Linked DNA regions of Homo sapiens. The protein of the gene in region 1 purifies or fractionates together with the protein of each later gene. This does not show direct contact. Each region holds a gene or a part of one and is shown on either strand. Other genes may lie near its edges.

Region 1 (3,500 bases):
TTTTCTTTCTGGAAAAGTTTATCATAAAATTTAGTCTTTAGGAAGAGGAGCAACTGGCATGTTTTGATGACTCTGGCAAAGCAGCAGTTTATTATCACTCAGCCAGCACCCAGTGAATGATGATAGTGCAGAATGGAGTTGTCAGTGGGCCCAGCTTAAGCAAATAACATCTGTGGAGCTTCTCCTGAAGTCTTGTGGTTGTCTAGGTCAGAAACTTTCGAAGAGTTCCTGTGGTCTGGACTCTTTCTGCTTGACTTGTTTATGTTCCCTGCCAATCCCCATCCGTATTTGAATTTGGGACCTCTGACCTAGGACTCTGTTGGTGTGCATATTTGGGAATACACTGCTGTCAACCCATAGCCTTTGGTGTGGGCATTTGTGACAGTTAGAAAATGTGAACAGTTTTAAATGAGGTACATGATTCTTGATTGACTTATCTAATGGATACACTGAAGTATTTGTCATAAAAAAAAATCTATTGCAAATATCATCAGTATTTTTACTTTGAAAACCATTTTGAAATAATGCATCAGATTTGATAGTATCAGGAGTAGTTTGCATTTCCTAGACATACACTGATTGGACACACAATTCTTGTTTACTTAGTATTGTATATTGATTGGCATTGGATACCATGCTAAAAATTTAAATTATGTAGATATTGAGGCATTGGACAGACTAAAGGCCCAAATAAGCTGAAAAACAGTGAATTAACTTACAAATAATTGTGGACATGTTAAGTAATTTGGCTTATAATAGACAATCAAATTGAACTTTCCACCTTGGTTTAGTTTACTTCTAAAAATGAAACGATGGGTTGGGATACACTGTTTTTAAATCTTCTAGTTTCCCAGCTTTATTGACTTGTAATCATAGGATTATTGCTTTTAAAAATACTTTGTAATAATTGTTAACTTTTTTGCCCATGAATTGTCTGTATTGAGAATGAGACATTTTGGTTTGTACATTCCCTAGGTCCAGATTCGGCCTTGGAATCTCAGTGACAGTGACTTTGTGATGGATGGTTCACAGCCACTTGACCCACGAAAAACTATATTTGTTGGTGGTGTTCCTCGACCATTACGAGCTGGTATGATTAAACAAACGACAAACTCTCTACCCTATAGCGCAAGAAATATGAAGATCTTCAGGATAAATTTTTCCTAAGAATTGGAGTTAATATCCAAGAGTGAGAGTTCTAGAATCAAAATATCTGGGTTTGAATTCATGTGTTCTAATAGTTAAGTGACCTTGGACAAATTCCATGACTTTTCTAATTCCCAGTTTCCCCATCTGTCAAGTAGGGATGAAAAGCGTTTCATCCCTAGGATGAAATAACACCAGAAAAAGTATTTCCTAGTGTTATTTTGAGGGTTGAATTAGACGACCAGTGCAAAGTACTTAGTCTAGTGTTGCATAATGCTAATTATTACGCTCATCATTGTCTGAAAAGAAAAAAAGTCCTTCAAGAATAGATTCTGTATTGAGATTGTCAGTATTTGTTTCCCACATCCTCATTTGCTCAACAGCGACTGACTGAGCTCTGGGATATAATAGACTTCCCAGCAATGCATCAGATTTTTAGGGTAGTACTTACAGAACAAATTAAATTCCTAACTTCAAGTAATTTGAGGTTTAATAATATACATGAGATAAAAAGACATAACATGAACAGGAATGTAGCTGCACGATTTTAACACTTCATAAAGAAGAAAATGCAGTCATTATTTCAAGGTTTTTTTAAATGAAAAATTGGTGAACTGACTGTGGGGAAAGAGTTTTGATGGAAATAAGCCAGGAGGGCCCACAAAGAGTCTACCAGTTAGTTTTCTAGTGTTCAAGTAATTATTACATTAATCAATACATTATTAACTGGTAAATCTATGGCAGCAACATGGCACAGAGCAGGCAAACATGGGAGTACTATCACTTAATGACCTGTGACCTTGGACAGATGGATCACCCTTTCAGCACCTCAATTTCCTCAGGAAATTACTACCTACTTCATATAGTTGTGAGAAGAATAAAGAGAACATACTAGAAAACACCTAGCAACCCCTTGCCCACAATTAAAAGATTAAGGCTTAACACAATGGATGACTGGTTGTAGTAATGTTTCATTTTAATAATTATTATAATGATGTGAGCTCAGAGTACAGATGAATTGCTTTTGATGAAACGGTTGGTGAGCCAGATGAATTTTCCTGATTTTAAATATCCTCCTTGTTCCTTTCTTAATTAGTGGAGCTTGCGATGATAATGGATCGGCTATATGGAGGTGTGTGCTACGCTGGGATTGATACCGACCCTGAGCTAAAATACCCAAAAGGAGCTGGGAGAGTTGCGTTCTCTAATCAACAGAGTTACATAGCTGCTATCAGTGCCCGCTTTGTTCAGCTGCAGCATGGAGAGATAGATAAACGGGTAAGCCTTATACTACATTTTGGAAAATTCTAGAAATGGTCCTCTAAATGTGTGATTACCAATATTAGAACGGGAGCATTTTATGACAATAAAGTGACAGCTGACAATTTTGCCTATAGAGTTAATTATGGTCTATAATACATGAAATAATGTCCTATGAATTTCTTTTATCTTTCAGTTTTTTGAGTAGCCTAATCAGAACACTACAATTTACTTGAGTTAATTTAATCTTCTCTAACTTCCATTCAATCTCAATCCATCCGTCCATTCATTCACTTAGTTTGTAAGTCATTCAATAAATATTTACTGAATCCTTTGTTCTGTGTTATATCAAGTATACAAACAGGAATGCCCTTGAGGTTTCCTGCCCTTTTTTTTGTTTGTTTTTTAATCCTGGGACATAGGGAAGACCTCAGCAAGCCCTATTTCTCAATGAATTGTACTCACAGATTTCTTTTTTTTTTTTTTCTTTTTCCACAGCCGCCACCTCTCACCGATTTATTCCTTAGCTTGGTGTTTCATGTATTCAACAAACGTTTTAGTGCTTAGGGCAAGAAGTTCCTGTCCTCATGAGTTTATTTCCTAGCAGATAGAACTGTATCACTTGCCAGTACTACTCAGAGTGTGGCCTGTGGACTGACCTCCAGTCTGTAAACTTAGTTTGTAGTGAGATAGGAATTTAGACCAGAATGTGTAATCAACCACATTACTGGGCACAATGTTTGGTCCAGCTGGCGATTTTTTTTTCATAGAAAGCCTTTATTGATGAGGGAAGCAATATATTGATTTATATTTTGGGGTCACCTTTTTATTTCATGGCACACTGGCACTTTCATGCATGCTGACTTTGATATCCATCACTCTGAGGCATTGTGCTAAAATAGATTGATTTTATCGTGTTGTTCTCAATTCAAGATGTAAAAATCATCAAGTCAGTAGCAGTTTTTGCTTTTTATGTTTCATGTCATGTACAGTCTACTTCACTGGCAGTAAAAAAATTTAAGATAGTGGTGGTCATCCTACAAACTGTGAATCTATTAAAGAGAAAAGTATCTGTTCTATTCTAAGCATGGGGG
Region 2 (4,026 bases), on another chromosome or scaffold:
AAGGGAACCCAGAGGAGGGTGGGGAGAGGATGGCCGCGCTGGGCCCAAGGAGGGGTGACGGCCAGGAGTGGTGAGAGCCGGGCTGATGTACTTGGCCTCACTGCCCCCAGGGAAGTCATCAGCTCCAAGGAGAAGAGCAAATACAAGTTCCCTCCTGCTGCTTTGCCCCAGGAATTCAGCGCCTTCTTCCAAGGTCAGGCCCCGCCCCTGCCCCCACTTGGCTCCACCCCCAAACCTAGGCCCCTTCCTGTCGTTCCTTGATCCTGCCATACACAGGAACCACTTGGTGGTGGCTGCATGCAGGACTGGGAGAACCAAAGACCAAGCAAGAGTTTAGGGACAGAGACAAGAGAAGACATCTTGGGCTGGAGCGAGGGCCTCCCATCAGGTGGAGGGGTGGGGTCAACCTGCCTACCCAGATTTCTCATCCTCTTTCCCCGCCATCTCCTGGATCCTTCTAGCCACTTGTACCCTACTGTGATCTTAAAACTCTCTGGTCCAATCCCTTTGTCCCCATAGCCTCCACGCATCTCCACCCATCCCGGAGACACAGGAGGTATCTCCACCTCCTGTTCCCTGGCTGCTGGAGGATCTGGTGCCCAGGACAGCTGTGGCTGCCTGTTCACAGGTGGTCCTGTGAACCTGTTCTCCCTGGTGACCCTCCACCCCTGGGTCCCCTCTCTCCTCTCATTGGAGGGAGACTGGCCAGGACTTTAGATAGGCTCAGGGTGGGATATGGCCTGGACAGAGGTGGGCAGGGCTGTGAAAAGGTGGTGACCTATTGGGATATTAAATGTCTCAGTGATGCCCCCATGGAGCTGTGGGCCTGGATCTAGAGTTGGGGCAGCAACTCCAGGAGGGGAGGCACCCCTAGGGAGCTCCTCGACTTTATTTTCCCATAGCCTGGGTGCTGTTATTAAAACAAACTGGATTTCATTTCTCCTCCCATCATATCCCTTGATGTCAACCTGACGTCCTCAAGATGAAATCCTACTCCTCCCACAGCCTTTCTCTCCACTTGCCCTGCTGCTCAGCCTGGCTTCTGTCCTCTCATTCCCAGACTGCTACCACTGACCCCACCTCAGGGTCTTAGCCCATGCTGTGCCTTCTCCCCTCCAACTGCATTCTCAGGTCTCCCCTCAAAAGCCCCATCCCCAAGGAGGCCTCCCACCCATCCAGCCGGAATCAAGCCCCAGCCCTACTCTTCCTCCTCTGCCAGGCATGTGACCCGGGGCTAGTCCCTTCTGCCCTCTGAGTTTCAGTCCCTGGCCTGGCATCCTGTCCAGTTTTGCTGGCGCAGGGCCAGGTGGGCCTCCTACGTATTAGGTTGTGAAAGCCCCTAGAAGTCCCAGGCAAAGGCATGGGCGTGGGGGGAGGTGGCATCAGTATAGTAGATACAGCAGAGTCCCCAGAGCACGGCATGGGAAGCACCAACCGTCACAGGGCAGAGGCAGCAAGAGATTTGCATCTGAGAAACTAAGCCCTGGTCATCATGGGGAAGTGGAAGGGTATGTGCTCATGCTGGGGCCCTCACTTTGGGGCTTAAGGATCTGGGAAGCTGGCTAGACTCTCAGGGCTGGTCTTTGTCACCCTTAAGTCCCCCAAAGAAGGGTTGTCCCTTTCAGGCCCTCTACTATACAGCCATAACTCCTTAGATGCCCCCCAGGGCAGAGCCAGCTCTTATCCCTCACACTGGATCTTTTACTTGGCCCAGCTCCCTCTCCCCTCCACCCCAGGGCACTCACCTCTTGTGCAGCCCCCTGGGTCCATAGCCCTGCAACCTTGGTGACATTACCCTGCCCACACCCCCCTACCCAGAGAGCCTACAGAATGCAGACCACTTGCCTCCCATACTGCTGTTACGTCTCATCCACCTCTTCTGCGCCGTCCTCGCTGGAGGAAAGGTAGGCTGGGAGGTGAGCCTGTGGACTAGAGAGCAGCTCTTTCAGTATCTCTCTGCTGGGTGAGCCCCTTGCCCACTGCCCATCTCTGTCCACACCTGCAGGAGAACGGGCAGATGGCTGTAAGTGATGGCTCTGTGAAGGGCCTGCTGAGTGTGGTGCGGGGCTGGAGCCGTGGGCCAGCCCCGGACCCGTGCCTAGTGCCACTGGCTCTAGAGGCACTGGTAGGTGCAGTCCATGTCTTGCATGCCAGCCGCGCACCTCCTCGTGGCCCAGAGCTTCGTGCCCTGCTTGAGAGCTACTTCCATGTCCTTAATGCTGACTGGCCAGCTGGTCTGAGCTCAGGCCCCGAAGAGGCCCTTGTCACCCTCCGGGTCAGCATGCTCGGTGGGTATGGGCTCCCAGGCTCTTGGGGAAGGGGCACCATGAGGGAAAAGCCTAAGTGATGATGGAAGGTCTGGATAGGGCAGCATAGGAAGGAAGGCTTAAGGCTGCCTAGAGGGGTCTGGGCAGGGCCTGACCCTTGACCCTTCCACAGACGCCATCCCCATGATGCTGGCATGTGAAGACCGGCCAGTGCTGCAAGCCACCTTCCTCAGCAACAATTGCTTTGAACACCTCACTCGGCTCATTCAGAACAGCAAGGTGGGTAGGGCCCAGCCTGGGGGTGAGGGTCTGGAAGCCAGAGGCTAGGGGAGCCACGCATAGGTGCCAGGCTGCTGCTGAGCAAACATGGGCTGGACAGAGTCAGTGTTTTGCAGCTGGTGGGATGGCTTGCAGTTCAGTGGGAGGGTGTGGGGCATGGACAAGGGCCCATCCCTTGGGGCCTCTATAGGACTGGGCTTGAGGCTTAGGACATCTTTGTGCCCCATGGAAGCGGGGCTTGTTATGGAAGGAAGGGAGCTGCTCTGGTGCCTTGTTTCCCTTTCCGTGGCCCCAAGTACAGGGGCTAGAGGAGGGCACCACTGCTTTCAGATGCAGTGCCTGCTCCCACCCGCTCATCCCCCCGACTGCCCATCTGAGCAGGGCACAGGGGGCTCAGCACCCTACTCTTCCCTAGTGCCGGGCAGGGCACCTGGCAGCTGCCCCTGGTCCTGCTCTAACCCCACCCTCTCCCATCTTCCTCCTCTCTTCTTTGCCTCCTCCACCCTGTGCCTCCCCACTTCCCCACAGCTGTACCTGCAGTCCCGGGCGCCCCCCGAGGGGGACAGTGACCTGGCTACCCGGTTACTGACTGAGCCCGATGTCCAAAAGGTACCATCCTGGGGCTGACCAGCTCAGACACCCCCTGGGACTCCCTCTTTGAGCTTTTCCTGCACTATAGCTGGGGAAATGAGCAGATGTGTGTAAGGCCTGGTGTGGTCTAGAAATGGGTGTGGGTCCTCCATGCTGTCTCGCCTGCCTTCCAAGTCCCCATCCTAGGGAACAGGACAGAAGGTGGTCTATCCCCTGCCTGGTGTTTGATTGGGTGTTGGGGGTCTGGCTGTGCCAAGCTGGATGGAACCTTCGAAACTCAGCCACCTACCTCATTTCTCAGAAGGGGAGACAGAAGCCCAGACACTCAAGGATTTGGCTATAGTCACAGAGAAAGGGGTCTCCCTCATGGTGCCATTTCTTTCTGTAGATTCTTGCACCCACCCTCAGCGGGTCACTGGGTGTCCCCCAGCCCCTGATGATGTGATCCCTGATTCACCTTGCATGTGGGCTGTAGGAGGCTGCAGGGTGTCAGCTGGCAGCTTCACAGCGGGCACCCTTTCTGGGGGCTCAACCTGTGGGCCCCAACCTCCATAGCCCCTACCCTGGCTCTGTCTTCATGAGGTAACCCTATGTGTTCACCGCATGTGGTCATTTTCTTAGAGCTTACACGTCTATTCATCTGCAAAGCAGGCAGGGCAAAGTGACTCCCCTCTGTTTTTACAGATGAGGACACTGAGGCCTGGAGGGGGAGGACTGATGCCTTAGGTCACTTGGGGAGTCAGGCAAAGCTGGGACCAAAGGCCCCATGGAGCCGAATATGACCTAGTCCCTGCTGAGAAACTCTCCAAGCCCTCCCAACCCCTGACCCCCTCAGGGTGGGGCAGGAGAGGCAGCAGCATGCCTCTGGCTGTCAGGTTCAGCCAGGCTG

What was found.
Region 2: the proteins of CPEB4 (region 1) and NBEAL2 purify together in Homo sapiens (tandem affinity purification; one large-scale study listed by IntAct). This does not show direct contact.

Annotation. Positions count from the first base shown.
Region 1 is NC_000005.10:173,950,849-173,954,348, forward strand, and holds part of CPEB4 (cytoplasmic polyadenylation element-binding protein 4), read left to right. Parts: intron 1-975; coding exon 976-1,090; intron 1,091-2,242; coding exon 2,243-2,424; intron 2,425-3,500. UniProt on the Homo sapiens protein: Sequence-specific RNA-binding protein that binds to the cytoplasmic polyadenylation element (CPE), an uridine-rich sequence element (consensus sequence 5'-UUUUUAU-3') within the mRNA 3'-UTR.
Region 2 is NC_000003.12:46,989,401-46,993,426, forward strand, and holds part of NBEAL2 (neurobeachin-like protein 2), read left to right. Parts: intron 1-110; coding exon 111-193; intron 194-268; exon of another isoform or gene 269-1,492; coding exon of another isoform or gene 1,493-1,508; intron 1,509-1,818; coding exon 1,819-1,904; intron 1,905-2,005; coding exon 2,006-2,288; intron 2,289-2,439; coding exon 2,440-2,546; intron 2,547-3,074; coding exon 3,075-3,155; intron 3,156-4,026. UniProt on the Homo sapiens protein: Probably involved in thrombopoiesis. Plays a role in the development or secretion of alpha-granules, that contain several growth factors important for platelet biogenesis.